Linked DNA regions of Homo sapiens: regions 2, 3 and 4 are each reported to be linked to region 1. Evidence: microRNA targets listed by miRTarBase, many of them from high-throughput screens and not tested one by one. Region 1 holds a microRNA gene; each other region holds the end of a gene's coding sequence.

Region 1 (7,105 bases):
AAGGGGGATGAAGGTTGGGCCACCTAGCCAGGGCAGCCCTCTCTTTTGGGACTCTGCCCAACAGAAGGCAGACCTTAGACCTGCTGATGGCCCCATCCCAGAAACAGGTACCCCCAGACTGGCAGCCCCCTGCTGCATGGCATCTTGAGGAGAGGTGGGGGCTGTGCCCACTCAGGCAGGGACCATTCCCTGGTTGGCACAAAGCCCTATGTATGCTAGCAGTGGCCCTGCCCCATAGCCAGCTATACAAAGTGGGGTTCAGCAGCAGGCCGATGGAGGGAAGGACGGAGGCTGAGGTCTTCCATGGTGCCTGCTGACCCCTGCCCTGTATGGCCCAGGTCTCATTGGCTGGGCCCGACAGGACTGCAAACGAGATCAAGGTCACTGTGGGCAACCATGCTGGAAGAGCCTCTCACACAGACACAGAGAAGTGCCTGCACACTCAGGAGGGAACATGGGGAGGGTGTGGACTGAGGTGGCGGCCCTAGGCAGTCACCTGTACTTCCTAGAGTAAAGCTGGCTGATGCACCCACCATCTCCTGGGGGCAGCATGCCTGTGTGGAAGCACTGGAGAGCCGGTGAAATAGTTAAGAGATTTTATTCTAATAGCTATAATTACAGTGCTTGTTTGTCGAAATGAAAACTGAAAACAAGTATACAAAACAGTTGATTACTAATCGTGTATTGAAAGCAGTAAGAGGTTCCACGACACCAAATAGACCAGTTCTGAGGTTTCCCCAAGATAAATTTAACAGCTCCAGCTTCAGTGTTTATCAAAATACAAAAGAAAAAAGTAGAGGTTGTCTTTTTCGATGGCAAATCGGACCCTTGCAGGCTGAGGGAGAGAAAGCTACATCACACACAGAGGTGGGGTGCTCCCGAGGGGCTGTGGGTCTAGGTGGACCGCCTGCCCGGCTTGCACGCGCTCCTGCTGGTGAGGCCCCAGACATCCTGCCAAAGTGTCTGAGCGAGCACGAGTGTTGGGGACGACGGACCCACTCTGGCCACACGGCGACCGAGGGACAGATGGGGCCCTGCGTCCCATAGGCTGCCTGAAGGTGGGTAGGGCGGCCTGCGGCATAGTGGGGTGGCTGTGGGCTCCCAGCCTGGCCCCTGGGAACCGTGGGAGCACAGGGACAAGCACATGGCTATGGAATGCAGGGTGACCCAAGGACAAGCGAGTTGCGGGGATCTCTACTGTGACCATGCAGAATTGATCGCAGTCTGCTGCGCCACCACCACCTCATGTTCCCGAGGGGAACAGCTGGGCTGGCGACTGGCATCCAGGCCGTAACTGCAAATCTATGCTAGGCGGGGTCTCCCTTCTGTGTGTTCAAGTGTTCTCGACTTGGATTCTTAACTATTTTAAAAAATGCACTGAGTTTGGGTTAAAAACCAACCACCAAAATGGATTTCAACACAGCTCTAAAGCCAAGGGCGTGGCCGGCTCTCCCAACACAGCGACTCCTGGAGGCCAGGTGCCCATGGGCCTACATCCCCTCTCAGCACTGAACAGTGAGTTGATTTTTCTTTTTACAATAAAAAAAGCTGAGTAATATTGCATAGGAGTACCAGAAACTGCCTCATTGGAAACAAAAACTATTTACATTAAATAAAAAGCCTGGCCGCAGGCTGCGTCTGCCACATTTACAGCACGGTGCGATGCACACGGTGACCAAACCACGGAGGCAGCTTCTGGCACTCACACCACGAGCCGCACGTTTGCCACATGAGAGTAAAGCAGAGGGCAAGAGGAGTGAGAGGGAGGGGGGTCGCGTTCACTTCTGGTTCCGGAGCTGATTGGACAGCCAGTCCAGTCCTTCATAGAGCCCGTCGCCGCTGGTGGCGCAGGTGGCCTGAATGTACCAGTTCCTGTGGCGTAGTGAGTGCAGCCCCAGCTTGTCTGTGATCTCGGCCGCATTCATGGCGTTGGGGAGGTCCTGGGGGAAGGAAGGGTTGGTGGGAAGGGCTGTCCACAGGACAGAGAAAGGGGCCCCACCAGCCTCCAGTAACCCCTACCACCAGGCGGAACCCACACTGGCTCCTCACATTCCCCAGGCTGGCCCGGGCGCCTACCTGCTTGTTGGCGAACACCAGGAGGACAGCATCCCGGAGCTCGTCCTCGGCCAGCATCCTCATGAGCTCCTCACGGGCCTCGTTCACACGCTCTCTGTCATTGCTGTCCACCACGAAGATCAGGCCTGCCGGGCAGCCAGTGTCAAATGGTCATGGGAACACAGCCCCCCTGCCGCATCTATGGGCATCGATGCCCCATCTATGGGCTGGCCCCCCCTCTCTAGAAGCAGGAGTGCCCATGGGACCAGGCCCCAGCCACTTACCTTGTGTGTTCTGGAAGTAGTGGCGCCACAGGGGCCGGATCTTGTCCTGGCCACCCACGTCCCACACAGTGAAGCTGATGTTCTTGTACTCCACGGTTTCCACGTTGAAGCCTGGGTGCGGGATGCAGGGTGAGGCCTTGTACCTTGGCCCAGCCCAGCCCAGCCCACTCCCTGCTGGCCCCCACCTCACCTATGGTGGGAATGGTGGTCACGATCTCACCCAGCTTAAGCTTGTAGAGGATCGTGGTCTTCCCTGCAGCATCCAGGCCCACCATGAGGATGCGCATTTCTTTTTTGCCAAAAAGGCCCTTGAAGAGGTTGGCGAAGATGTTCCCCATGCTTGTGGACAGGTGGAAGGACACTGGCCAGGGACACCTGGAGAGACAAGGTGCTCCATGTCTGGTTCTGTGCTGCCCAGCAGTGGTTGCTCAGAACCCACCCACCCAGGGATGCACCACTGCCTCACCCCACCTCCTGGAAGCCTGCAGGGAAACAGGGAAAGAGCCCTGCCTCCCATGCCCCCCAAATCCACCTCAGGATGGGGGCTGAGGGAAAATGGCTGAGTCAGGAATTGAGAAACTGTTGCCCTCATCTTGGGAAGCTGTCCCCACAGCTGCATGGCCAGAAAGGCTGCCTCATCCCAGCCTATGCAGGAGGGGAGGCTGGCTGCCTGAGGACTGGCTTCCAGGTGCGTGCAAGGCTCCTCTACACCCCAACACAGAACCTTCCAGGGCCAGAGAGCACCACTCACTGTGCCTGCCCACACTCACAAGGACCAGAGCACACAGGGCCACGCCAGACTCAGCAGGACACCTTCAGGGACACACTCCCATGAGGACACAGCCTCGATGGGGCACGCCCGCCATGTCTGCCCCACACCGCAAGGGTAGGGGTTCCCTCAGCAGAACACAAATATCGGGGACAGCAATTAAGTCAGCTGGCACCCACCATCAGAGCCCTGCGGAGACTCCAGCAGGAAGGGCCTCCACTGCCCAGACGCCTCTGTGAGGACACTGAAGTTGTTAGGCTTTGGCCTCACTGGCCAGTGGGCAATTTCACGAATCAGGTGATTTTATCCCGAACAGGGACTTTAGAAAACACTGGTCACTTTCTGAAACAATGACTGCTTCTTCACTGCACCCGCAAGCGGGGCTTACCCCGAGTGAGGAAGGCTTCTGCCTTCAAGAGGACATGCCAGGAGCCTGTGAGCACACCCACCCCTCATCAGACCTCCTCCACCAGGGGTTCCACACACAGGTGGCTTTTGGCTGAATCACAGCCATGACTGTCCGCTGGTGACTCTCTCATCCAGTCACCCCAGCACGCTACGGCAAGGAAATGCCTCTTCTCCATTTCTCAACATCAGCAAGAGCCCACACATGCCTGTGTGTTTCAGTGGGTGTGAACTGGCCGCCCGTGTCTGATTTAACACTGCCATCATCCCAGATGAGCCACAGAACCCCTTCAAGCTGGATCAGTGTCCTTTGGACACTTTGCTCTTGGTTTTGAACATGTCACCTATTCTGAAATTTAAATGAGTTCTGAAATTTATAAGGACCTTCACTGTAGTGTTCCCTTTTTGGGGACGGCCAGGTTTTCTAAGCCCAGAGGAAGACCACCACCCATGGAGCACAGAAGAGACTGAATACCTGCCCTCTCAGTCCACTCCTGCAACCACTACCAATGAAGACACCAAAATGACACACACGCCTTGAAGGGCAGAGAGAAAAGGGAGGAAGACCTTGGATGTGATGATTGACCAGGCAGAGAAAACTGGACCGCCTGGGACCCAAGGGATGAAGCTGGGACTGCCTAGGGCAGCAATGTCCAATCTTGGCTACCCTGGGCCACAATGGAAGAAGAATTGTCTTGGACCACACACAAAATATACTAACACAACAGCTGGTGAACCAAACCAAAACAAAAACCCCCAAAATCTCAATGTTTTATTAGAAATTTGTGTTGGGTCGGGTTCAAAGCCATCCTGGGCCACATGCGGCCTAAGGGTTGGACAAGCTTGGTCTAGGGGAGCAGCTGCAGCAGGGCTTAGGCCTGCGCTGAGCCATGACAACACACTTGAGCCATGAAATTCCAGAATAATTCCTGAGAGTTCTATATGCCCCAGCAGATCCACACACAAGCAACTGGAGCTCCGCCCACCCCCACCCCCCACCAAGAGACAGGCCTGTCTGCCTTTGAAAGGCCACCAACATAAGAGACCCAAATATAAAAGGAATCTGCAAGGAGGCAACCAAGACAGGAGACTGAAGACAGAATACTATTTTAACAAAGGACAAGGAGAGAAACCTGATAGATACACAAATAGCTGAAAAGGAAAATTCAAAATGAAGGTGCTCAGAAGGCAGAACAAAAACAAACAGAATGAAAAAGGAAGATGAGGAGTAACTTAAGATATCAACCAACAGAAACCCTAAAAAGAAAGAACGTACGAAATTACGGGGTGAAATTTTTCCCTGTTCCAGAGTGGGGACCCAGGAATCTGGGCTTCGGCCTCAAAGGGCTGAAGCGCAAAGCCAAGGACCTAGATGAGACCCAATAAAGGTGCAAGGTGGACTCCAGAATGCACAGGGGCAAATGACACCTCTGATGCCCCAGAGAATGGAAGACTCTGAAACACTGCTTTCGAAACCCTTTAATTCTATACCCAGCCAAAGTATCCAACAAGTGTTAGGGGAGAATGAAAATAACTCCCAAACTGCAGGGCCTCAGATCTCTCACATGCTCCCTCCCTAAGAAGCTCCCCCAGGGAACCAGGGAGAGGATGCGAGCCCACAGCAACGTGGAGAGAGAGCAGCAGCCTAGCCAACCCCACATGGAGAGAGAGCAGCAGCCTAGCCAACCCCCTCAGACTGGAGCAGGAAGTGGACACCTGCAAGAATGGGGCACGCCACCTACGTATTCTTATTATGGGGTTGGGCAACTCTAGGCAATGCGGAAAAACTAATAATGACAGGTTCGCATGAAAAACCCAAGCATGAAATGGAACGAAAAGAGGGCCTTTTATGAGTTACTCCAGGAAAACATATGGTGGAGGATACTCAGGGAGTCCTGATGTTGTTATTACTAGGGGGTTGGAAAGCTGAGGCGAGGGTGTGTGGTGTCAAAGGCTTGTTAACTGTACAAGTTAACAAGTCTAGGAGGAATAAACCTAGGACACCAAGTCAGCAGGGACTCAGGAATAAGGGTCGCCTGCCAGTTGGGCAGAGGCAGCACCAGACTGCCACGACCACTGAAGCACAGCACTTGGGAGAATTGACAGTAACACCCAGCCACTCAGGGGAAGGGGTGTCACACCGTCACCAACCCCCTCGACCCCAGCACTGTCCGTGATCCACACATGCCTGCTGCCTCCTCATGCCCGGGGCAGTGCCGCCAACCATGCCCAGGAGATCATGCAGCCTGCAGGCAGTGGGGTTTGTGATGCCAGTAATCCCAGGCCCTCCCCATTGGTGGCTTTTTTTTTTTTTTTTTTTTTTGAGACAGAGTCTCACTCTGTCATCCAGGCTGGAGTGCAGTGGCTTGATCTCAGCTCACTGCAACCTCTCAGGTGCGATCTCGGCTCACTGCAACCTCTGCCTCCCAGGTTCGAGATTCTCTTGCCTCAGCTTCCCGAGTAGCTGGGACTACAGGCGCGTGCCACCACGCTGAGCTAATTTTTATTTTTATTTTTAGTAGAGACGGGGTTTCACCATGTTGGTCAGGGCTGGCCTCGAACCCCTGACCTCAGATGATCAGCCCACCTCGGCCTCCCAAAGTGCTGGGATTACAGGAGTGAGCCACCACGCCCGGATTTTTTTTTTTTTTTTTAACAGACCAAAGCGTTAAGAGTCCCCAAAGGAGGGAAGCCACCCTGCAATGGAATGGCAGAACCAGGATGGGTGAACCTGAAGTCTCAGGTGTCAAGACATCGGCACACAGACAGCTTGGTCTCTCCTACCGACAAGCACATCTGTGGCCCTGCTGCACATATGGGCAGAGGGTGGCTGGCACGTCCTGCCTCGGCATGTTCCAGCATCCCCACAGGACCCTATACCTGGCAGCCCCTACATCATTTACTGCTTCTGTGACAGATGGAGACCCAATAGAGTTTCCTAAGAGGGAGAAAGAGTCCACAGCAACCCCCACCCTCAATTCCAGGGCCTCTTGGTACGGGTCCTAACTTGTGTCATGCCCAGGCCAGGTGCTGTCACCCTTTCTTCCACCAGAGTCCCTGCACACAAGCCAAAACCCGCTTTTCAGGTTCATCGGAATTATCCTGTGGTAGGAGCAAACCTGACTTTCTCAGAGCCTTCCTGCTTGTACACAAGGGGACCCCTCACACTTTGAGAAGGGGCTGCCCAGCAGGAGGATGCCAGGAGCCACCAGTGGCTACTTCTCTTTCCTGACCACGCTGTGGGCTCCAACTCTGAGGAAAAAAAGTCTTTTAGGAAGAATGTTTCTTTCTTCAGTGAGGACCACAGACCAATGGTAAAGGTGGCCTTCAGGCATTACACCAAAGAACGGGACAGTCAACTCTGGCAGCTACATTCCCCGACACCTCACTGTGCCTGAACAGGGGCAGGGAGAAAATGTAGCTCTGTGAGTTCACATCCGTTTTGTGTCCATGAATGGATCCAACCAAACTGGTCCAGATGCACATGGGGTCCAGATGCCTCTGTGGCCTGTACCCAGACCACCAGCCAGTACTGTCCTCGGTCCCTTGCAGATCTCAGGGATACTTTGGCATGAGTCAGGGAAGGGAACAG
Region 2 (7,117 bases), not on the chromosome of region 1:
TAAATTACTTGGTGTTCTGCAAGAAATAAAAATCTCTCAAATCTACACACTAAACCCTTTTATCACATCTCAGAATCTACTCTATTAAAAATAAAGTAAAACCTAGAAAACCAGTCCCCAGTATATTGAATATGTAACTGATTCACCCAGTTGTTCTCAGTATTCCCTTTCTCTTTAAAATGAAAGCACACAAAAGGAGGGACTCCTTGTATATTCAGGGCAAACCATTGTCACAATGAACTCATTTGGAATGGATTTTGGAAGCTCTTCAGTCTCCAGATTTCTATGACACTCTATTTTTCAATACGATCCATTTACTTGTCACTCAGTCTTTTTCTTTTATTCAGTCTGCACTGGTCACCTAACCATCACCTACTGTGTCACTGCATAAAATCTGAAACTGCAGTGATTCAAATTTCTGACCCACCACTAGTTTTGTACATCCTGTATTCAAGCTCATCAAGTTCTCTCTTGCCCCCAGCTTTTGAACATGCTGTCCTCTCTGCCTAGAAAGCCCTCTCTCCCCTAACTCATTTTGCTGGACTGACTCCTAGTTATCCTTCAGGATTCTATTTGGACTTCATTTCCTCCACGCAGCATCCCCTGAGGCCCTAATCGGAGCTGGTTGTCCCGCTTTATCAGGCTCTGCCACACCACGCTGTGCTCAAATTTATAGGACCTAAATATTGACAGTAACTACCCACTTAGCTGTCTGTGTCTCCACTGAACTAGCTCCGAAGGCAGTAAGCACACCCATCCATCCTGCTCACTATGGTGTCCTCAGTGTCTAGCAAACTGCCTACTCATCATAGGTGCTTAATACATATTTAAAGAATGAACACACCAGTAATTTGACAGTAAGCAAACTGTAAAATATTTTTATAACCGCCTTATAAAGTAGGATCCTCAAGTGCCAAAGTACTTAAGAGAATAACATCTAATGAAGTATTTTTAACCTAAGATAATTACCAAGTCAATCAGAATACAGCCACTCTTAATTTAAGCCAACTTTGTTCTCTTCATTTAATGGAATTGGCTAAATAGAGGCTCAAATAAGTGCTTGTTAATTATACTAATTAACAAATGTTTGCATGGTTGCATTAAAATATATGAGCTCTCTAAAACCTAGTTAAAATCTGAGGTTACCATGTGCATGTAGTGAGCTCAGAGTAAGTAAGGTAGTTTCTTAAAGGGATAGTTGTTGCTGCCTCAGTTATTTGTGGGGTTTCTCTGAGTATTCAAGACACCCAATGCTGCAACTTTTGGTTAGGGGGATGGGGAGGGAGGAATGCTTATCTCTGGAGGCTTTTTCCCTTCTCCATTCTTAGCAATGTACAGCTAAGAAATTTTACAGCCAGTACAAAAAGGGGATGCTGTATCCCAGTAGTAACTCCCTAGGAATCCACTGGCAGATTTCCCAGATGTATGAAGAAAGCCCATGGAAGATGTCTTCATATTTAATTCTTATTTTATTTTATAAAGAAGTTTATTTGCATTCCCTTTTGTATTCTCAGGGCCTGGTACGAGCCTTACAATAGTAGGTACTCAGACAGGCACCTGATAGGTAAATGATCGCAGAAGCCACCTTTCCCTAAAGGCATTTGCTGAGTCCAACAAATTCCAACTTCCATTTTGATGGTGAAAGAACAGAAATCACCTTCATAAAAGGTGGGAAGTCTAACACGAGATGCTCCTTACAATAAAGGGAAATCTAATAGCTATGCAGTGAGAATGAATTGGAGATAAACCAACTCTTATGAGGAATTTAAGTCTGGGATTAACCTAGGTATTCTAGAGAACTTTAAGCCGTGACCTAAATTGACTTAACCTATGTGGGAGTACACTAGGCACTTGGCAGAAATAAAAAGCAGGTTCTCGTATTATTCATACAAATAATTTTCCAAGTATCATGACCAGCTCATAGTCAAAGATAATCAGGCACACAAGGAAATGCAACACCATGAGCACAAACCAGCAGAGATATCAAATTAACAAAAACTAAGATCTAAACTAACTTTTGCTGTTATTAGTTTATCCATATGCATGAAAATTAGGAAATGTACCTCTCTACTTCTTCATAATAGGAATTAGAATATATTTGGAGCCAAAAGACAGTGAAAATACTGTATACCAAAACTCATGGTAAAATGGTACAGCCACTCTGGAAAATAGTTTGGCAGTTCTTCAGCAAGGTAAACATAATTACCATATGACTCAGCAATTCTACTTCTAGGTATATGCCCAACAGAAGTGAAACACATTCACACAGATGTTCACAGCACCATTATTCACAATAGCCAAATAGTGTAAACAACCCAAATGTCCACCAACTGATGAATGGATAAACAAAACGTGGTATATCCATACAATGGATATTACTCAGCCACAAAAAGAATGTAAGCTACATGCTAAAACATGAATGAACCTCAAAAAAGTATGCTACGAAGTCAAACACAAAAAGCTATATTATATAATTCCATTTGTATGAAATAGCCAAAATAAGCAGGTTCATGGAAACAGACAGTAAATGAGTGGTTGCTGGGGCTTGGAGGAGGGGGGTGTGGGGAGCAGCTGCTAATGGGGATGAGGTACCTTTTTGTGATGACCTAAATGTTCTGGAATTAGATAATGGTGATGGCTGTGCAACCTTGTGAATACAGTAGAAATCACTGAATTATATACCTTAAAAAGGTAAATTTTATGGTATGTGAATTATATTTCAACTTTAAAGGCTTTGTGGGATGCAGCTATACATTTAAGCTATTTAATCTTAAATACATATATTAAATGATTATTACTAGTTTGCTGGTAAGAATACTCTCTAGTTTACTTAATATTCTTTATTTTTCTTTTTTTGGACAGGGTTTTACTCTGTCTCCCAGGCTGGAGTGCAGTGGTGCGATCACAGCTCACTGCCACCTCCATCTCTCAGGCCCAAACAATCCTCCCATCTCAGCCTCCTGAGTAGCTGGGACCACAGGCACATGCCACCATGCCCGGCTAAATTTTCTATTTTTTGTAGAGACACAGTCTAGCTATGTTGCCCAGGCTGGTCTCGAACTCCTAGGCTCAAGTGACCCTCCCACCTCGGCCTTTCAAAGTGCTGGGATTACAGGCATGAACCACCGTGCCCGGCCTAATATTCTTACCAGTAAGAATTCTATACTAGTTTGGTTACTATTCTTAATAGTAAAGATATACTTGAAAATATCTGCAATAAACATTGACTTATAAAACTGTAGCAAATTTTAAAAGAACCAAGTAGAATTCTAGAAATAAAAAATCTAATAACCTAATTAAAATCTGAGGGATGATTTGACAATGGACTAGACATAGCTGAAGAGAGAAATGATTAACTGGAAGGTAAGTTGGATAATAATTACCCTTGATCATGTAATTAGTATGTTCACCATAAGTGTTGTGAAGTGTCAAAATGTCTGCAACTTACCTTCACAAAGTTCAGTAAAACATGTCTCTCTATTGATATAATGCATATATAAACATGTTTAGCAACAGAGGGAGATAAGGTGAACATGGCAAAATGTTAACAACTGGTGAATCTATGTAAAGGGCATATATTCAATGTACAACTGTATACTCTTGGTTTCCAAACACAACGCGCTATTGTTTAATTCTACCTGGGTGATGGCTTGTTCTCAGTTTCCTTCATTGGCTCTTCAACTTTTCCTTAATCTCTTTGTTATAATCGCCTAGGACTCAGGCCTTCAACTTCTCTCCATGATCATGCTTAGCCTGTTGGTCATTTCATTTCATCTCATAGTTTTAAATAACCACCAAATCCTAACTGCCTGCCTCCATTCCAATCTAGACTCCCTCACAGACTTGGCTTTCACATCCAGGTGCCTACTTGGCTATCTAACAGATAATTGAAATTAACATATCAAAAATTGAATGTCTCTAAATTTTCTTTACCTATAGCCTTCCTCATCTCAGTTGATGGCAAGGTCATCTTGAATTTCTGTTGCTTGGTCCAATACTTTGAGTTTGTCATTGACTCTTCTTTCTCTTATAAATATTTTGTCCAATCCATTAGTGAATCCCTGAACTAATAACTTCTCACTCACCCTCACTATGCCCACCCTGCTTTGAGCCATCATAAGCTCTCATCTGGATATCTGCCACAGCCTGCTAATTGGCTTCCCTGCCTCACCCCATGTTCTTGTACCAGTTCCCCTGCCAAAGCAAGAGCAATCATTTAGAATCAAAGTTGCCGGGCGCAGTGGCTCACACCTGTAATCCTACCACTTTGGGAGGCAGAGGCGGGTGGATCATGAGGCCAAGGGATCAAGACCATCCTGCCCAACATGGTGAAACTACTAAAAATACAAAAATTAGCCGGGCGTGGTGGCGGGCACCTGTAATGCAGCTACTTGGGAGGCTGAGGCAGGAGAATTGCTTCAACCCGGGAGGCTGAGGCAGGAGAATTGCTTCAACCCGGGAGGCAGAGGTTGCAGCAAGCCAAGATCGCACCATTGCACTCCAGCCTGGGCGACAAAGCAAGACTCCATCTCAAAAAAAAAAAAAAAAAAAAAAAAAAAAAAAAGAATCAAAGGTCACATATCATTTTATATCCTAAACCCCTATCCTAATTTTTATTTTCACAGAGTAGAAGCCAAAATCTCTAACAATTTTTTTTTTTTTTTTGAGATGGATTCTCACTCTGTTGCCCAGTGGCTGGAGTGCAGTGGCACAATCTTGGCTCACTGCAAGCTCCACCTCCAGAGTTCAAGCGATTCTCTGCCTCAGCCTCCCGAGTAGCTGGGATTACAGGTGCCCGCCACCATGCCCGGCTAATTTTTTTTTGTATTTTTAGTAGAGACGGGATTTCACCATCTTGCCCAGGCTGGTCTTGAACTCCTGACCTCGTGATCCACCTGCCTCGGCCTCCCAAAGTGCTGGGATTACAGATGTAAGCTGCCACACCAGGTCTCTCTAACAGTGGTTTTTAAGAACCTATGTCATCTGTCATCTTTGCTCCATGACCTTGAACTCCGTCTACTCTCCCCTTTGCTCACTTCACTCCAGCCACACCAGCTTTCTTGCCATTCTTCAACCACGCCAAATTCCTCCAGCTTTAAGGTCTTTTCACTGACAATTCCTTTATCACTTAATCCAGTCTGCATGATGAAAACCAGTTTCAATTTGTCTGGGAGCAGGACCCTGGCATTAGTATATTTTTAAAATGTTTCGTATGTCTTCAAAATAATCAGGATTATTTTAGCCTCGAGTTGGTAATTGTTGAAACTGAGTGATGGGCACATGGAGCCCATTACACGATTCTCTCAGACAAATATAAAACAAAAGAAAAGCTTCTGTGGTGATTCCAGTGTGCAGCAGGGTTGGGAATCACTGGCCTGTAATCCCCAAACCGGACTGTTTTGCCCATAAATAACAGACATTTCTATTTGAAAGGCTGTCTTAATGAATTAAAAAGATACACAGAAGATGAAAAATATCAAATTTATTTTCTGAAGTAGAATAAAAGGATGCATTTGAATTCACCTTGCAATATACATTGACAGTAAAAACATTTGCCCCATGTCCTTCTTGTTTCCATTTAACTCCTAACACTAGCATCTGGAAGAAAGAAAAGATTTCTGGCCCTTGGTTGCAGAACCTAAAACTTGCAAAAGAATGTGTGAAATGTATACCCCCAAACTCAATCCTCCTAGGTCACCTCAGAGGCTTGTTAACAAGCTCCATACAGTTGAAAGATAAAGAGCTTCTTCCTGCCTCCTTATCCAAAAGCTCTTGAATAGTCATTTGCAGTTTGAGGTCTTACCACAATTTTCACTAATGCTTAACCCATTTGAGGTACAGAGCATGAAAGAATGAAATTCTCTTCTGTTTCAAATGAACTAATATCTAAATCTGAAATTATCAAAGGTGACATCTTTCCCTTTTAAAAAATAAACCACCCAAATGAAAGTATTAGTTTGAAAGATACTTGCTAATAAACCTGACAAGGAAAAATTAAACCATCCCCTTTTTTGCCATAATAATATGAATTTATACAATGCTAACGTAAGTCTTGGGGAAGTGGAACCACACGAGTTCTATCAAAAATAGATATTGTGATGATTAGATCTGATCTGAGCTCCCCTCAGAAGACTGGGGGACCTGGGAAGACTGGCTTATTTGTGAACTATTCAGACTCATGCTCATCAAGATGTTATTGATGACATTAAGTTCTTGGATCACTGTGCTCAGATCTTCATGTAATCTAGCGATCGCACGTTTTACCTCCCTTAAAAGAACACTAATGGAATTCTTTGCTTCAGGTTCCTGGGGGAAGTCTTTGGTTGACTGAAAACCAGAACAGGACAGAGGGATGAACTGGTCTACATTTTGGGTGGAAAACTCCCCCCAGTGACTACTAGAAATGTGACTTATATTCTTTTTAGCAGAATCAGAGTTATTTGGAAGAATTCCCAGTAGATTGAGGCTATCATTTTCCTCTACATCAGAAGACACTGGGCCCCTAGAAGCAAAGGAGTGATGCAGCTTGGCTGTCTTATCTTCATCTTTAAAGGAGGTAGAAGACAACTGTTGATGGGACAGAGTCCAGAAGGAAGGTCCGGCCAGAATTGGTGATAAGAGATGAGCTGACTTCTCTGGAGAGGCTAAATCAGGAGATGACATGGATAAAGGAGAAAAGGAAGATGCTCCCTCAGAAGCAGTTGAAACTAAAATGTGTAAATGAGAGAAAAAAGATTTATGCAACATACAAATGAGAGTAATAGCTAAAATAATTTTATAATGTAAAAGCCTATCTGGAAGGGCTCAACATAAATAAACTGCTTAGAATTTTAAATGTTAACTATTCATAATAAGCTTAAAAAAACCCAAAGCAGGAAACTAAGAAAATCTACAGATGTATTATATATCAATAATACCATGGAAATGAAACTAAAATAGAATTATCAATATTCATCTTGACTCATCTTGACTCAAACCCTGCCCAACATATTTTTACACTAAACTTAATCAGAGAGAGTAGAAAAGTATTAAACCCCATTCTACTGACTGCCAGCATTTTAAGTTGGTATTTAAAGTAGAAAGTGAGAAACCTGTAACAGATTCCTTCAACTTTTTA
Region 3 (7,117 bases), not on the chromosome of region 1:
CCTGAACCCGCCCCCTCCTACAGGATGATCCCGTCCACCAGTCAGACCTTCCTGGTGAATGACCTGGCGGCGGGCCGTGCCTACGACTTGTGCGTGCTGGCGGTCTACGACGACGGGGCCACAGCGCTGCCGGCAACGCGAGTGGTGGGCTGTGTACAGTTCACCACCGCTGGGGATCCGGCGCCCTGCCGCCCGCTGAGGGCCCATTTCTTGGGCGGCACCATGATCATCGCCATCGGGGGCGTCATCGTCGCCTCGGTCCTCGTCTTCATCGTTCTGCTCATGATCCGCTATAAGGTGTATGGCGACGGGGACAGCCGCCGCGTCAAGGGCTCCAGGTCGCTCCCGCGGGTCAGCCACGTGTGCTCGCAGACCAACGGCGCAGGCACAGGCGCGGCACAGGCCCCGGCCCTGCCGGCCCAGGACCACTACGAGGCGCTGCGCGAGGTGGAGTCCCAGGCTGCCCCCGCCGTCGCCGTCGAGGCCAAGGCCATGGAGGCCGAGACGGCATCCGCGGAGCCGGAGGTGGTCCTTGGACGTTCTCTGGGCGGCTCGGCCACCTCGCTGTGCCTGCTGCCATCCGAGGAAACTTCCGGGGAGGAGTCTCGGGCCGCGGTGGGCCCTCGAAGGAGCCGATCCGGCGCCCTGGAGCCACCAACCTCGGCGCCCCCTACTCTAGCTCTAGTTCCTGGGGGAGCCGCGGCCCGGCCGAGGCCGCAGCAGCGCTATTCGTTCGACGGGGACTACGGGGCACTATTCCAGAGCCACAGTTACCCGCGCCGCGCCCGGCGGACAAAGCGCCACCGGTCCACGCCGCACCTGGACGGGGCTGGAGGGGGCGCGGCCGGGGAGGATGGAGACCTGGGGCTGGGCTCCGCCAGGGCGTGCCTGGCTTTCACCAGCACCGAGTGGATGCTGGAGAGTACCGTGTGAGCGGCGGGCGGGCGCCGGGACGCCTGGGTGCCGCAGACCAAACGCCCAGCCGCACGGACGCTGGGGCGGGACTGGGAGAAAGCGCAGCGCCAAGACATTGGACCAGAGTGGAGACGCGCCCTTGTCCCCGGGAGGGGGCGGGGCAGCCTCGGGCTGCGGCTCGAGGCCACGCCCCCGTGCCCAGGGCGGGGTTCGGGGACCGGCTGCCGGCCTCCCTTCCCCTATGGACTCCTCGACCCCCCTCCTACCCCTCCCCTCGCGCGCTCGCGGACCTCGCTGGAGCCGGTGCCTTACACAGCGAAGCGCGGGGAGGGGCAGGGCCCCCTGACACTGCAGCACTGAGACACGAGCCCCCTCCCCCAGCCCGTCACCCGGGGCCGGGGCGAGGGGCCCATTTCTTGTATCTGGCTGGACTAGATCCTATTCTGTCCCGCGGCGGCCTCCAAAGCCTCCCACCCCACCCCACGCACATTCCTGGTCCGGTCGGGTCTGGCTTGGGGTCCCCCTTTCTCTGTTTCCCTCGTTTGTCTCTATCCCGCCCTCTTGTCGTCTCTCTGTAGTGCCTGTCTTTCCCTATTTGCCTCTCCTTTCTCTCTGTCCTGTCGTCTCTTGTCCCTCGGCCCTCCCTGGTTTTGTCTAGTCTCCCTGTCTCTCCTGATTTCTTCTCTTTACTCATTCTCCCGGGCAGGTCCCACTGGAAGGACCAGACTCTCCCAAATAAATCCCCACACGAACAAAATCCAAAACCAAATCCCCCTCCCTACCGGAGCCGGGACCCTCCGCCGCAGCAGAATTAAACTTTTTTCTGTGTCTGAGGCCCTGCTGACCTGTGTGTGTGTCTGTATGTGTGTCCGCGTGTAGTGTGTGTGTGTGTGTGTGTGTGTGTGTGTGTGTGTGTGTGTTGGGGGAGGGTGACCTAGATTGCAGCATAAGGACTCTAAGTGAGACTGAAGGAAGATGGGAAGATGACTAACTGGGGCCGGAGGAGACTGGCAGACAGGCTTTTATCCTCTGAGAGACTTAGAGGTGGGGAATAATCACAAAAATAAAATGATCATAATAGCTAACGCTTAGTGAATACTTACTTACTATGTGCCAAGCACTTAAGTCATTTAATTCTCACAACACCAGGACATATCGGTATTATTATCCTGTTTTCCAGATGAGGGAATTTTGGCCCAGAAAAGTTAAATAACTGGCCCAAGGTGGTAAAACTGGGATTTAAAAAGGCAGGCAGGCCAACTTCTGAGTCTCTACTATAGGGGTGAAAAGACAGCTTCCCCTTCACTCTCTGAAATTTCACTGGAATGGGCTGACAATAGATTAACAAGAGAAAAGGAATATGGAGGGTATTTAACATGCACTAGGAAAATCACAGGAAAGTGATTACCCAATAACCCAGTGAGGTTTATATACTTATATACCTTTCTTCACAGGAGGGGAGATGGGGAAAGGAAGGCAATTTTGAGGGGTAATAAATGATTTTGGGGAAAATAAATGGGTCCAGGAGATAGAATTTAGCTTGTAAATGTCTCTGGAATTTGAGACTGACAGACAGATAATTTCTTGTGACAAAGTCCGTCCAGGTGTAGACATTTCTCTGTCTTTTTTTCCTGTTAAAGATAATGAAATGTCAGGGAGAGGACAGAAGGCACTTGTGTTCTTTTTGATCTTTAGGCAGATAAGAAGACATAGGAGGAAAGCCTCTTCCAGCATCTATGGATCTCTAAGTGCCTTTAATTTAAAATAATCAGCATACCAGGGTGCCATATTTTGGGGTGACATTCCCTGAACTCCTTTAATACTCAACTAGAGCACTGTACTGCTGAGCAGTTATTGAATATTCATTCCACCCTCTGAGACCTCACAACTCAGTGGGGTAGGGTAGATCTATCCTTGGTCCCATTTTACAGACAAGAACCTGAACCACAGAGAGATGAAGTCACTTGCCGTAGTCCCTCCATCCCCCCAATGAATAAATAGCGGAGCTGGAAGTTTGATTGTACCCCTACACTATGCTGCCTCTGGGGTCTGTGTCCGGAAGCTGGGGTATGGCCCCCATGAGCTTAGCTGAGCTTGGATATCCACAGCTAGCCTGGTGAGCTCAGGGACAAGACCTCTTGTGTCGCTCTGCCTGGAATCTGAGGGACCCTGGCGGAGGGCATGGAGGATGGTGTGGGGAGAGGAGTTTCTCAGGTGAGGCTGAGGGCTGTGGCTGGGGAAGGAAAGCTGGTTGGGGAGAGGAGAGGGACAGACATCCCAGTCCTTGCAGGGGCCCTGCAGTGATAACACCTTCCTGATCTTGGGGAAGAAGGAGGAAGGCTTCTTGCCAGCCAGGGGCCCCCTGAGGCCAGGGGAGGAGGAGAGAAAGACAGAAATAGAAACGGAGCAGGAGGGAGGGGGATGGATCTAGGCAGACAGGGTGGGAGGCTGCTAGGACAGAGGCACCAGAGAATCACAGGCCAGGAGGCTTCCTCACCCAGGAGCCCAACCACCCTCATTTGTGTCAGTCATGACGACTCCTAGGTACTGAGGGCTTTTCACAAGCCAGGCACAGTGCTCCCAAACCCTCCCTGATGCACGGATAAAGAGCATGCAACCCAGTGCATGGCACATAATGCTTAGGAAATGGAGTTACTCCAATAATAAGTATGACTGCATTTAAAGCCTGCACAGGTATATGCAGTGTGTGCACACAATTTTCAAGATGAGGAAACTGAAGCTCAGAGAGGTTAAGGAGCATCTCCAAGATCACACAGCCAGTTAACAGCAGAGCCATGATTGGAAAGCTGACTGCCTCCAACCTGCACACAGAACCATCAGGAATCTTGTCTCTAATTCACTTGATAAAGCATTATTGAGCATGTATTATGTAACTGGTCCTATGTAGGGGCTATCGCAGTGAACAAAATAGATGAAACAAAACAAGAAAGCCCTGCTCCGTGGTGCCTATATTCTAGAGGGAGGAGAAATAAACAAATAAGCAATTAAATGAGTCCAGGAGGTTGAGGCTGCAATGAGCCCTGATTGCACCACTGCACTCCAGCCTGTGTGGCAGAGTGAGACCCAAAAAACAAGCAAACAAAAACGAGTAAATAATGCATGTCCAGTGGCAAATAAATGTTGTGCCAAGAATGAAAACAGGATGATGGCATAGAGAATGACTTTGAGGCCTACTTTAGGTGGGAGGGTGAAGGATGGTGATGACAGAGCTAAATAAATGCATTGTGAGAAAAGCAGGGAAAAGCATTCCTGGCAAAGGGAACAGCATGTGCAAAGACCCTTAGGAAGTAGTGTGCTTGATGTGTTGGAGGCAGTGTGTCTGGACTGAAGTGGGAAGAGTGAGAGGAGAGTAGGTGGGAGAAGCAAGTGGGTTCTACAGAACCTTGTGAGGTGTGGTCAAGAGTTAACATTTTATTCTTTGGGGCCATGGGAAGCCAATGAAGGGTCTTTACCAGGGGTGGTATGTGGTCTGATTTCTATGGAGACCCCAGCTTTGGGGTGAGGTATGCCTACCTTCAAAACAGAATTGGGGGTGGGTGCAGTGACTGACACGTAATCCCAGCACTTTGGGAGGCCAAGGTGGGAGGATCGCCTGAGGTCAGGAGTTCGAGACCAGGCTCGCCAACATGGTGAAACCCTATCTCTACTAAAAATACAAAAATCAGCTGGGCATGGTGGGTGCCTGTGATTTCAGCTACTTGAAAGGCTGAGGCAGGAGAATCACTTGAGATTACATCACTGCATTCCAGCCTGGGTGACAGAGTGAGACTCCGTCTCAAAAATAAAAAAAAAAAGAAAAAGTTGTGGGGTGATTGCAAAGCTACAAGGAACAGAGCTTTAGAGAAAGGAACCCAGACTCAACCCCACCAAGACACTCTCCCTACACAGCTCTCTTCTCTGCTTGGCTCAGCTCAGACTCATCCCTTTCAACTGCATGTGGCGGGGGAAAATGGTCATTTATTTACAGACACAGACTCAATCTTTCCAGAGCCCAGAGATAAAATGGCAGAATCTCTAGTCCTAAGAGAAAAATCTCAGGGAAGAGCTCTTATCGGCCTGGCCGAGGTCACATAGCAACCCCTGCACTGATTGCCGCATCCAAGGGAATGAATGGAATGCTTTGATTGGCCAGGTAGGGGGTGGGTGGGTCCTATGTCCCGGTTGTGTGTCCTGGGAAGTAGGGATTGCTAAATATTAGGTTGAACCACATGAACTTGCCATTTTTGTAGGTCACACATTGTATAGTATTGGCAATTTTATGTGGTTGAAGGTAAATACTCTCCAGAAAAAGTAGGATAAGAAATCTTGTTGGCTGGGTGTGGTGGCTCATACCTGTAATTCCAGAACTTTGGGAGGCCAAGGTGGGATGATCACTTGAGGCTAGGAGCTTGAGACCAGCCTGGGCAACATGGCGAGACTCTGTCTCTACAAAAATAAAAATAAAAAATTAGCCAAGCATGGTGGTGTGTACGTGTAGTCCCAGTTACTCAGGAGGTGGTCTTGAGCCCAGGAGTTTGAGGCAGCAGTGAGCTATGATTGAGCCACTGCACTCCAGCCTGGATGACAGAGCAAGATCTTAAAAAAAAATAAAACAAAGAAAGCTTGTTGCTGTAATATGCTAGTCTCAAAAAAGAAAAAAAAATAAGAAAGCTTGTTGAGCATATAAAAGCAATAGAGGCTGGACACAGTGGCTCATGCCTGTAATCCCAGCACTTTGGGAGGCTGAGGCGGGTGGATCACCTGAGGTCAGGAGTTCGAGACCAGCCTGGCCAACATGGTAAAATCCTGTCTCTACTAAAAGTACAAAAATTAGCCATGCATGGTGGCGGGTGCCTGTAATCCCAGCTACTCAGGAGGATGAGGCACGAGAATCACTTGAACCTGGGAGGTGGAGGTTGCAGTGAGCCAAGATCGCACCACTGCACTCCAGCCTGGGTGACAGAACTAGACTCTGTCTCAAAAAAAAAAAAAAAAAAAAAAAATATATATATATATATATATACACAAATATATATATATATACACACATATATATATATATATACACATATATATATATATATACACACATATATATATAAAATAAAAAATAAAGCAATAGAAACCCCGGTGTACTATGCAGAAGGATTTTTGGAGGAGGAAGTGATATTGTGGAAATGAGCCAGGTGAAGACTTGGTCGTGGGAGAGTGGTGGGAACTGTCCTAAGCAGAGGGAACCACTTAAGCAAAGGCCACCATGAGAGAGGACAAGGAAAACTTGTTACTGTGCTCTGGAGATGGAGTGCTTGCTCTAATTGATCAAATTGGAGTCATGTGTCCAGCCAAATGAGGGAGTAGGAAAGGAGGTCATTTCCGAAGGAAAATTGAAGCACTGTTACCAGGAGTAATGGATGCTGCTCAGGCAAAACTAAAATATATCCAGTTCAAAATCTCTTCTATAAAGCCTTGGCATCTCCAAGTAGAGATTTGCAACCTTGTTTTCTTCCATTGCAACATTCATAATTGAAGAGACTCATATGCCTGGGCTCAGACATGTCCTATATGATTAAAATTTTTATGAAATATTAATTGACCACATTCTCTGGGTTCAGTGCTGGCCATGCAGAGATGAATTTGTGGGGATACATTTGGCCACAAGAAACAGAAAAATCCAATTAACACGACTTAAGCAAGAAAGACATTCAGTTATGTCACCTAAGAGTAAGTCTGGAGTTAGGGGATTCTGGGGTTTGGTGCAATGGCTTATTAATATCAGCAAGGACCCCGTTTTCTACTCTTTTGTTCTACCTTCCTCAAAATGATAGCTTCACACCCTAAACTTGTTGCCTTGTGGTCACAAAATGGTTGCCATAGCTCTGGGTCTCACATCCTCATACCAATGAACTAAGCAGGAAGGAAGGGAACAAGTGGGAAAGAGTTCTGTTTGTATTAAGGAAGAAAAATATGTTAAAATAATAAGAGTAACAGCAACAAACACATGTATGGGGCTCCGCCTTTGCCAAGCTCTGTTACATTTTTTACATAAATTAACTTTTTTTTTTTTTTTTTGAGACGGAGTCTTGCTTTGTCACCCAGGCTGGAGTGCAGTGGCACCATCTCGGCTCACTGCAACCTCTGCCTCCTGAGTTCAAGCGATTCTCCTGCCCCTCAGCCTCCCGAGTAGCTGGGGTTACAGGCACGC
Region 4 (7,110 bases), not on the chromosome of region 1:
TCTCATTTCACCAATGAGGCAACTCTTAGAAATAATGTATCAGTTAGCTGACCTTGGGCAAGTAGCAAAGCCAAGCTTGGAGATCAGGCTGTCAGACACCAAAGTCTGTGCTCTCAATCACTGTATGCTCTCTCTCAGTAATTATCTTTCACTAATATTTAGGATATTCATAAAAATTGAGAAAACAGCCATAAAGATCAGAGGATGAACTTTGTGATCCTCTCGGGGGAAGGGGCAATATTATATTGTGTCTTATTTTCCCTTTGCAGGCTGGTTTACCATGACTTCTTCAGAGACCCTCTCAACTGGTCAAAAACTGAGGAGGCCTTTCCTGGGGGGCCGCTGGGAGCCTTGAGAGCCATGTGCAAGAGGACAGATCCTGTTCCTGTCACCATTGCTCTCGATTCACTCAGCTGGCTGCTACTTCGCCTTCCCTGCACCACACTCTGCCAGGTCCTGCATGCTGTGAGCCATCAGGACTCTTGTCCTGGTGAGACCCCTCCTTCATTGTTTCCCCTCATACATCTCCCTCTGCCAAGGAGTGTGCCCCTTTTCCTTTCTACCCTAGAATAAACATCTGGGTTCTCCAGTCAGACCTTTTTTCATTTTTTTGACTTTTTTGTCTGTTTTTTTTTTTTTTTACTTCTCCTTAATGCCATCTACCATTTGCTTTTTTTTCTCCAAGTTATTTTTTTACTCATTTGTTTCACTCATTCATTCATTTAACAAATCAATAGTAAATATATACAATGTGTCAGGTACAATTCTAGATAATGGCAAAATACAGACTGACTGTAGCTGGGTCCTTGCCTTCCAGGAGCTCGAAGTCCCATAAAAGATGGAGATAAGTAAACAGGCAGTTACAAGATGGTCTGATAAAGGCCATGATGATACAGGCATGCACAGGGCACCTTAAAGAAGGGCACTCTTGGCCGGGCGCGGTGGCTCACTCCTGTAATCCTAGCACTTTGGGAGGCCGAGGTGGGTAGATCACAAGGTCAGGAGATCGAGACCATCCTGGCTAACATGGTGAAACCCCGTCTCTACTAAAAATACAAAAAAAAATTAGCCGGGCTTGGTGGCGGGCACCTCTAGTCCCAGCTACCCGGGAGGCTGAGGCAGGAGAATGGCGTGAACCCGGGAGGTGGAGCTTGCAGTGAGCTGAGATGGGCCACTGCACTCCAGCCTGGGCGACAGAGCAAGACTCCATCTCAAAAAAAAAAAAAGGCACTCTCTTGAAGAGCAAGAGGTCATCCAGGCAAATTTGGCCGGGCAGGGGCACTGAGACTAGCCTTGAAGTGCACTGTGGGTACTCGAATGGACTTAGGAGTCAGACGCCCAGCTTTGTATTAAGGTGCTTGATCTCTCATTGCTTCACTTTCCCCTGTATATGGGGGAAGGTACAAGGGAAGTATTAGGATGAACCACTATATTGCCATTTCTTAGGTTAAAAGTTGTTAAATATTGTCTGGGCGCAGTGGCTCATGCCTGTAATCCCAGCACTTGGGGAGGCCAAGGCGGGCGGATCACCTGGAGTTGGAGACCAGCCTGGCCAACATGGTGAAACCCTGTCTCTACTAAAAATACAAAAAATTAGCTGGGTGTGGTGGTGCACGCCTGTAATCCCAGCTACTCGGGAGGCTGAGGCAGGAGAATCACTTGAACCCAGGAGGCAGAGGTTGCAGTGAGCTGAGATCACGCCACCGTACTGCAGCCTGGGTGACAGAGAAAGACGTCATCTCAAAAAAATAAAAACAGTCCGGGCGCAGAGGCTCATGCCTGTAATCCCAGCATTTTGGGAGGCCAAGACAGGTAGATCACGAGGTCAGGAGTTCAAGACCAGCCTGGCCAAGATGCTGAAACCCCGTCTCTACCAAATACAAAAATTAGCCAGGCGTGGTGGCACGCGCCTGTAGTCCCAGCTACTCAGGAGACTGAGGCAGTATTGTTGAGCCCGTAGCAGGGGTTGCAGTAAGCCAAGATTGCGCCACTGCACTCTAGCCTGGGCGACAGAGCAAGACTCCATCTCGAAAAAGAAAAGAAAAAAAAATTGTTAAATGTCAGTGATTTCATACAGTTTGACCTAAAAACGCTGACCTTTGTAAGGATTCAAACATTGTGTTAAAGCGTTTAGCATAGTACCTGACACTCTCTAAATGCTCCCAAAAAGGGAGGCAGAGAATTGAAGGCACTGACTGAGATCTTGGGAAGTTCCAGAAACTACAAGTACTTCCGTGTGTAAGAGATGAGGCTGGAAAGTAAGTGGACACCACCTGCTGGAAGCGTTCGTTCCATCCTGAAGGCAGGAGCTGCTGAAGAATAGAAGTTAGAGCGGTGCCTTGATCAGCTTTACATTGGGATGATAGAGGAGATTAAGGTGTGGGCTGGAGGAGGCTCAGAGCACGGTAGTGAGATTGGCCAAGGGACGTCAGGATTTTGGCAGCACTGTGATGGAATTGTGAGGCTCTCTCTTCTTCACTGTTAGCTCCCAGGCCACCAACCTGAATGCTCCCTACTATCCTACATTTCTTGTCCTCCTCTAGGTGACAGCTCCTCAGTGGGGAAAGTGAGTGTGCTGGGCTTGCTACATGAAGAGCTTCATGGACCAGGCCCTGTGGGAGCTCTCAGCAGCCTTGCTCAGACTGAGGTGACCCTGGGCGGTACCATGGGCCAGGCCTCGGCCCACATCCTGTGTCGGAGGCCCCGACAGCGCCCAACTGACCAGGTCAGAAGAACCAACAGAGAAGGACTGGAAACGGGGGACAGAGAAAGGGGTGGCACGATGGGAAGAACAATGAAAATGCTGATGTTTCAAGGAGACTTTAAAAACAAACTTTTTTAGAGATGGGGTTTCACTGTGTTGGTCAGGGTGGTCTCAAACTTCTGGGCTCAAGTGATCCTTCCACCTCAGCCTCCCAAAGTGCTAGGATTACAGACGTGAGCCACTGTGCCCAGCCCTCAGTGAGACCTTTTTTTAAAAAAAGCTGATTTAGGTATTTCTCTGTTTTCTATCACTCACTTCATTTAATCCTCTCAGCTATGGTTAAGGTAGATTGTTTTATTATCACCATTTTTCAGGCTGGAAAGCCAGTCCAGGGAGGGTTTTATTCCCTTGGAGTTTTTTTTTTTTTTTTTATTGGACAAGGTCTCACTGTTGCCCAGGCTGGAGTGCTGTGGTGCAATCATAACTTACGGCAGCTTTGACCTCCCATGTTCAAGTGATCCTCCTGCCTCAGCCTCTGGTGTAGCTGGAGGTGGGAGCACAGGCATGTAGCACCACATCCAGCCAGCTTTTTAGTTTTTTATACAGATGAGATCTCACCCTGTTGCCCAGGCTGGTCTTGAATAACTAGGCTCAAGCCATCCTCTGGCCTTGGTCTCCCAAAGTGCTGGGATTACAGGTGTGATCCACTGCACCCGGCCCAAGGAGGTTTAAATTTAAGTCACTTACCAAGGTTATAAAGTGTAAGTGGGGCCCAGGCGAGGTGGCTCAGGCCCATAATCCCAGCACTTTGGGGGGCCGAGGTGGGCAGATTGTGAGGTCAGGAGTTCGAGACCGGCCTGGCTAACATGGTGAAATCTCATCTCTACTAAAAATACAAAAATTAGCTGGGCATAGTGGTGGGTGCCTGTAGTCCCAGCTATTCGGGAGGCTGAGGTGGGAGAATCACTTGAACCTGGGAGGCGGAGGTTGAGGTGAGCCGAGATCATGCCACTACACTCCAGCCTGGGCAACAGAGTGAGACTCCGTCTCAAAAAAGGAGTAAGTGGGCTGCTCTGCCTAAGGAGTCGCCATCCTTTTATTCCTTTACTTCCTTAATCAACTTGCTTTCACTTTTGAAAATAAAATAGAGGCTGGGCGCAGTGGCTTACACCTGTAATCCCAGCATTTTGGGAGGCCGAAGTGGGCAGATCACCTGAGGTTAGTGGTTTGAGACCAGCCTGGCCAATATAGCAAAACCCCATCTCTACTAAAAAGACAAAAATTAGCTGGGTGTGGTAGCACGTGCCTGTAATCCCAGCTACTCGGGAGGCTGAGGCAGGAGAATCACTTGAACCTGGGAGGCGGAGGTTGCAGTGAGCTAAGATCACGCCACTGTACTCCAGCCTGGGCAACAAAGCCAGACCCTGTCTCAAAAAAAAAAAAAAAAGTTGAGGGCAGGAGCTGAAAGCAGTCAGTTAAATAGGTGATTGGGGGCTGAGGATGTGAGGTCCTGGAGTCTGTCTAGTTTCTTCAGTAAGATGAAAAAAACTCTTTTCTTTTTTCTCTCCAGACTCAGTGGTTCTCCATCCTTCCGGACTTCAGCCTGGATCTCCAAGAGGGGCCCTCTGTAGAGTCCCAGCCCTACTCCGATCCTCATATACCCCCGGTATCTAAGAATGCCAAGGCCAGAACAAGGAAATGTAGTTTAGTATCTGGTCACGGGAGAGAAAATAAAAGCTGCAGAGGTTGGGGGTGGGGTCAGGGATTCTAGGGATGGGGCAGAGTGGCAGCATCCTTTGTACCTACAGGTGGATCCCACAACTCATTTGACCTTTAACCTTCACCTGTCCAAGAAAGAGAGAGAAGCCAGAGATAGCCTGATCCTGCCCTTCCAGTTCAGTTCTGAAAAGTAAGGTTGGGACCTGGGTACGTGGATCCCTGAGTAGATCCCAGCATCTGGGCCATGGAGAGGTTGGGGCAACAGGTTATTGATTAACCTGACTTTATAGGGACTGAAGTCCACCTCCAGAGACAAGTCCAAGTTCTTGATCCACCCATTCCCCCTATAATGGCAGAGGACCTTTATGTCTCTTTTCTCTCCCTTATACCCTTGGGTCACAGCTCCAGTTGTCCCCAGAGCACCCTGGGCCTGGGCTGAGCCAGACCAGACCCTTGGGAGGTGGCCCTATCCCTAGGCAGTGGTGCTAGGAGGACAGAAGGCTATATGGGCGTGGCAGAGGCTGGTTAACAAGGGCTTAGTACACGCTTGCTGTTCTGTGCCCAGTATGTGGGCGGATGACGCAAGACTACAAGATCCTTGCCCTCAAGCTGCTAGGAACTTACGGTTTTATTAGGAGAGCAGTACAAGGGTATCTATCCCAGTACCAAATGGTGCTTCAGCTCTAACATGGAGGTCAGAGAAAGGGACTTGGACCAATAAAATGACATGGAGGCCTAACAGGTTGCCTGAATGAGAGTCACAGTCACCTGGAAGAAAGTATCCAGACCCAACCTGTTAGCTACCCTCACCAGCACCAAATCTTCCCTTCTCAGACAGCAGGCTCTCCTGCGGCCTAGGCCAGGGCAGGCTACCAGCCACATCTTCTATGAGCCAGATGCTTATGATGACCTGGACCAAGAAGACCCAGATGACGACCTGGATATTTGACTGGCCAGATTTGATTAGATTGTAATTGGAGGGGGCGCGGGAAGACTTTGGGCCCAGAACCATCTTTCTATTGTTTGTGTTAGCCTTACCCTGTCCCTGCCCCACCTTGGTTCCCCTTGTCTATGGAGCCCCGCCTTGTGAGCCAGGAAGCAGCGTCTCATCAGGACAGAAGGTAGGATGAAGACATGGGGTAATGTGAGAGAGTAGAACACCCCCGTACCTAATAAAAATCTTTATTTTTTTATTAAAAAAGAAGTACTTTGGTAGCTATTTAAATAAGAGGGGGGTGGGAATGAATGTCGAGATACGAGCACCTGCATCTTTTAGTCAATTGTCAGTGGAGTCAGTGGGGTGCTAAGTGTTCTGAACTGAAGTAGGTGCACTAAGGTTCCAAGCTCCCTGCAAGGATCTGGACGGGAGGAAAGCAGAGGCCCTGAAGGGAAAAAAGCCTGCTTCCCAATACTTATTTTTTATTACTGTACAAAAAGCACACTCTCCCTCTTTTTGTCTCTCCCACCAACGGCACCCCCCCACCCCCAACCCAAGAGGACTATACATGGAGTGCAGGGACAGAGTGACCAGGAGGCCTTTGTCCGGCACCCTGCCCACAGGCTGAGCTCAGCCCCAGGCCCTTTCAGGCATCTAGACACTCCCATAGCCTGTCAGGCTGGGGCAAGGAGATCCCAGGTCACACATACTCCTTGGAAGAGTTGGACTTAGGGTAAGAGCGGGGTACACGGTACCCAGCCTTGCTCTCATTCCCAGGACAGGAACAGGAGAGCAGTGCACCTCCCAGGATGACTAGGGCAGACCCTGCCCAGCCAATAAAGATGGCAGGGCCAAACTCATACCTGTGAAGAGAAGGGGGTGGTTAGAAACCCTGGCGTGCCTCTGCCCTCCTCCCTATTCCAGGACCCCAGACCTGTCCCCTTAGGAGGCAGGGTTCCCAGACTTACTTAATGTTGGTAGGGATCAAAGGGTTATAAAAGTCTGTGACAATCTGATGGCCATACCAGGAGCAAGCTACCAAGGCGGCAAGACCTGGAGACAGAATGAGGGTTTCAGTATAGTGAGGCCCCAAATGGGCGCCTTGCCCAGCCTTGCTCCTCCCAGATGGGAGAACCCGGGGGCTCACCTGCCACGATGAAAATTATGCCTCCACCCATGGCTATACGGGCCTTCTTCACTTTGTCGTCTCCCCCACAGCGCGTGCACTTCATGCCCATCGTGGCCACAAACATGGCCAGGAAGCCCAGCACCAGGGAGACCACCATTAGGGCTCGAGTGGCCTGCAAGGCCGCTGCGGGCGAGGGGAAAGGGCGCCGTCATTGCTGGAAATGCAGGCGGCTCCAGCCTTCGTGCCGCCGGCCGCGCCCACTAACCGCTGGACCTCTTCTGTCCGGCGCCGTGTTCTGCCGAGGGCCAGGGGCGCCCAGGTGTCCAAGACCTGGGCCAAGCGGGCAGGTCCCCGCCCCTCCCGACAGCGCGGCCTTCCTGCTCCCGCCCCGCCCTCTCCGCTCAAGGATCCGCCCGGGGCGCCGGGGTTTCGGTGAAACTGCCCTGGATAGGGGGAAGGGTGAAAGGGTGCAGCGAAGAGAAGCCGAGACGGTGGTCCGAAGCCCCGCGCGGCGCACATGCCAGCCGGCGTCCCTGCTCTGAGCCCGCTATCGAGGCCACCGGGTTTGTGGCTTCGGCTAATCGGCCGATAAGATTAGAGGCAGCAGGCGGCGGCCCACTC

The links. Region 1 holds the annotated microRNA hsa-miR-3620-3p (UCACCCUGCAUCCCGCACCCAG, at 2,451-2,472, opposite strand). A microRNA usually pairs through its seed, bases 2 to 8, with sites in the 3' UTR of a target mRNA and lowers its output. Matches are read on the target gene's strand: a 7mer-m8 pairs with bases 2 to 8, a 7mer-A1 pairs with bases 2 to 7 and ends in A, and an 8mer does both.
Region 2: miRTarBase lists ENTHD1 as a target of hsa-miR-3620-3p. The part of its 3' UTR that is shown has no 7-base or 8-base seed match.
Region 3: miRTarBase lists LRFN1 as a target of hsa-miR-3620-3p. Seed matches in the 3' UTR shown: 7mer-A1 at 1,842-1,848.
Region 4: miRTarBase lists CLDN7 as a target of hsa-miR-3620-3p. Seed matches in the 3' UTR shown: 7mer-m8 at 5,970-5,976.

Annotation. Positions count from the first base shown.
Region 1 is chr1:228,092,687-228,099,791 of GRCh38, reverse strand. MIR3620 (microRNA 3620) reads right to left here and starts at 2,529; the gene lies at 2,451-2,529. ARF1 (ARF GTPase 1) reads right to left here. Exons shown (of 5, transcript NM_001658.4): 2 at 2,530-2,714; 3 at 2,340-2,450; 4 at 2,077-2,201; 5 at 580-1,940. The coding sequence starts at 2,677. The coding sequence ends at 1,779. RefSeq lists enhancers at 1,357-2,556, 1,643-2,612, 2,613-3,582.
Region 2 is chr22:39,737,577-39,744,693 of GRCh38, forward strand. It overlaps ENTHD1 (ENTH domain containing 1), which reads right to left. Exons shown (of 7, transcript NM_152512.4): 7 at 5,468-6,707. The coding sequence ends at 6,103. Among named protein-coding and RNA genes, the nearest start is that of ENTHD1, 150 kb to the right of the region's middle.
Region 3 is chr19:39,301,449-39,308,565 of GRCh38, reverse strand. LRFN1 (leucine rich repeat and fibronectin type III domain containing 1) reads left to right here. Exons shown (of 5, transcript NM_020862.2): 5 at 24-2,000. The coding sequence ends at 933. Among named protein-coding and RNA genes, the nearest start is that of IFNL1, 8.6 kb to the right of the region's middle. RefSeq lists an enhancer at 238-739.
Region 4 is chr17:7,254,314-7,261,423 of GRCh38, forward strand. CLDN7 (claudin 7) reads right to left here. Exons shown (of 4, transcript NM_001307.6): 2 at 6,508-6,672; 3 at 6,329-6,413; 4 at 5,590-6,223. The coding sequence ends at 6,061. ELP5 (elongator acetyltransferase complex subunit 5) reads left to right here. Exons shown (of 8, transcript NM_203414.3): 4 at 270-490; 5 at 2,544-2,725; 6 at 4,275-4,370; 7 at 4,513-4,613; 8 at 5,258-5,624. The coding sequence ends at 5,372. Among named protein-coding and RNA genes, the nearest start is that of CLDN7, 4.6 kb to the right of the region's middle. RefSeq lists enhancers at 6,554-6,603, 7,005-7,110 and a silencer at 6,804-6,933.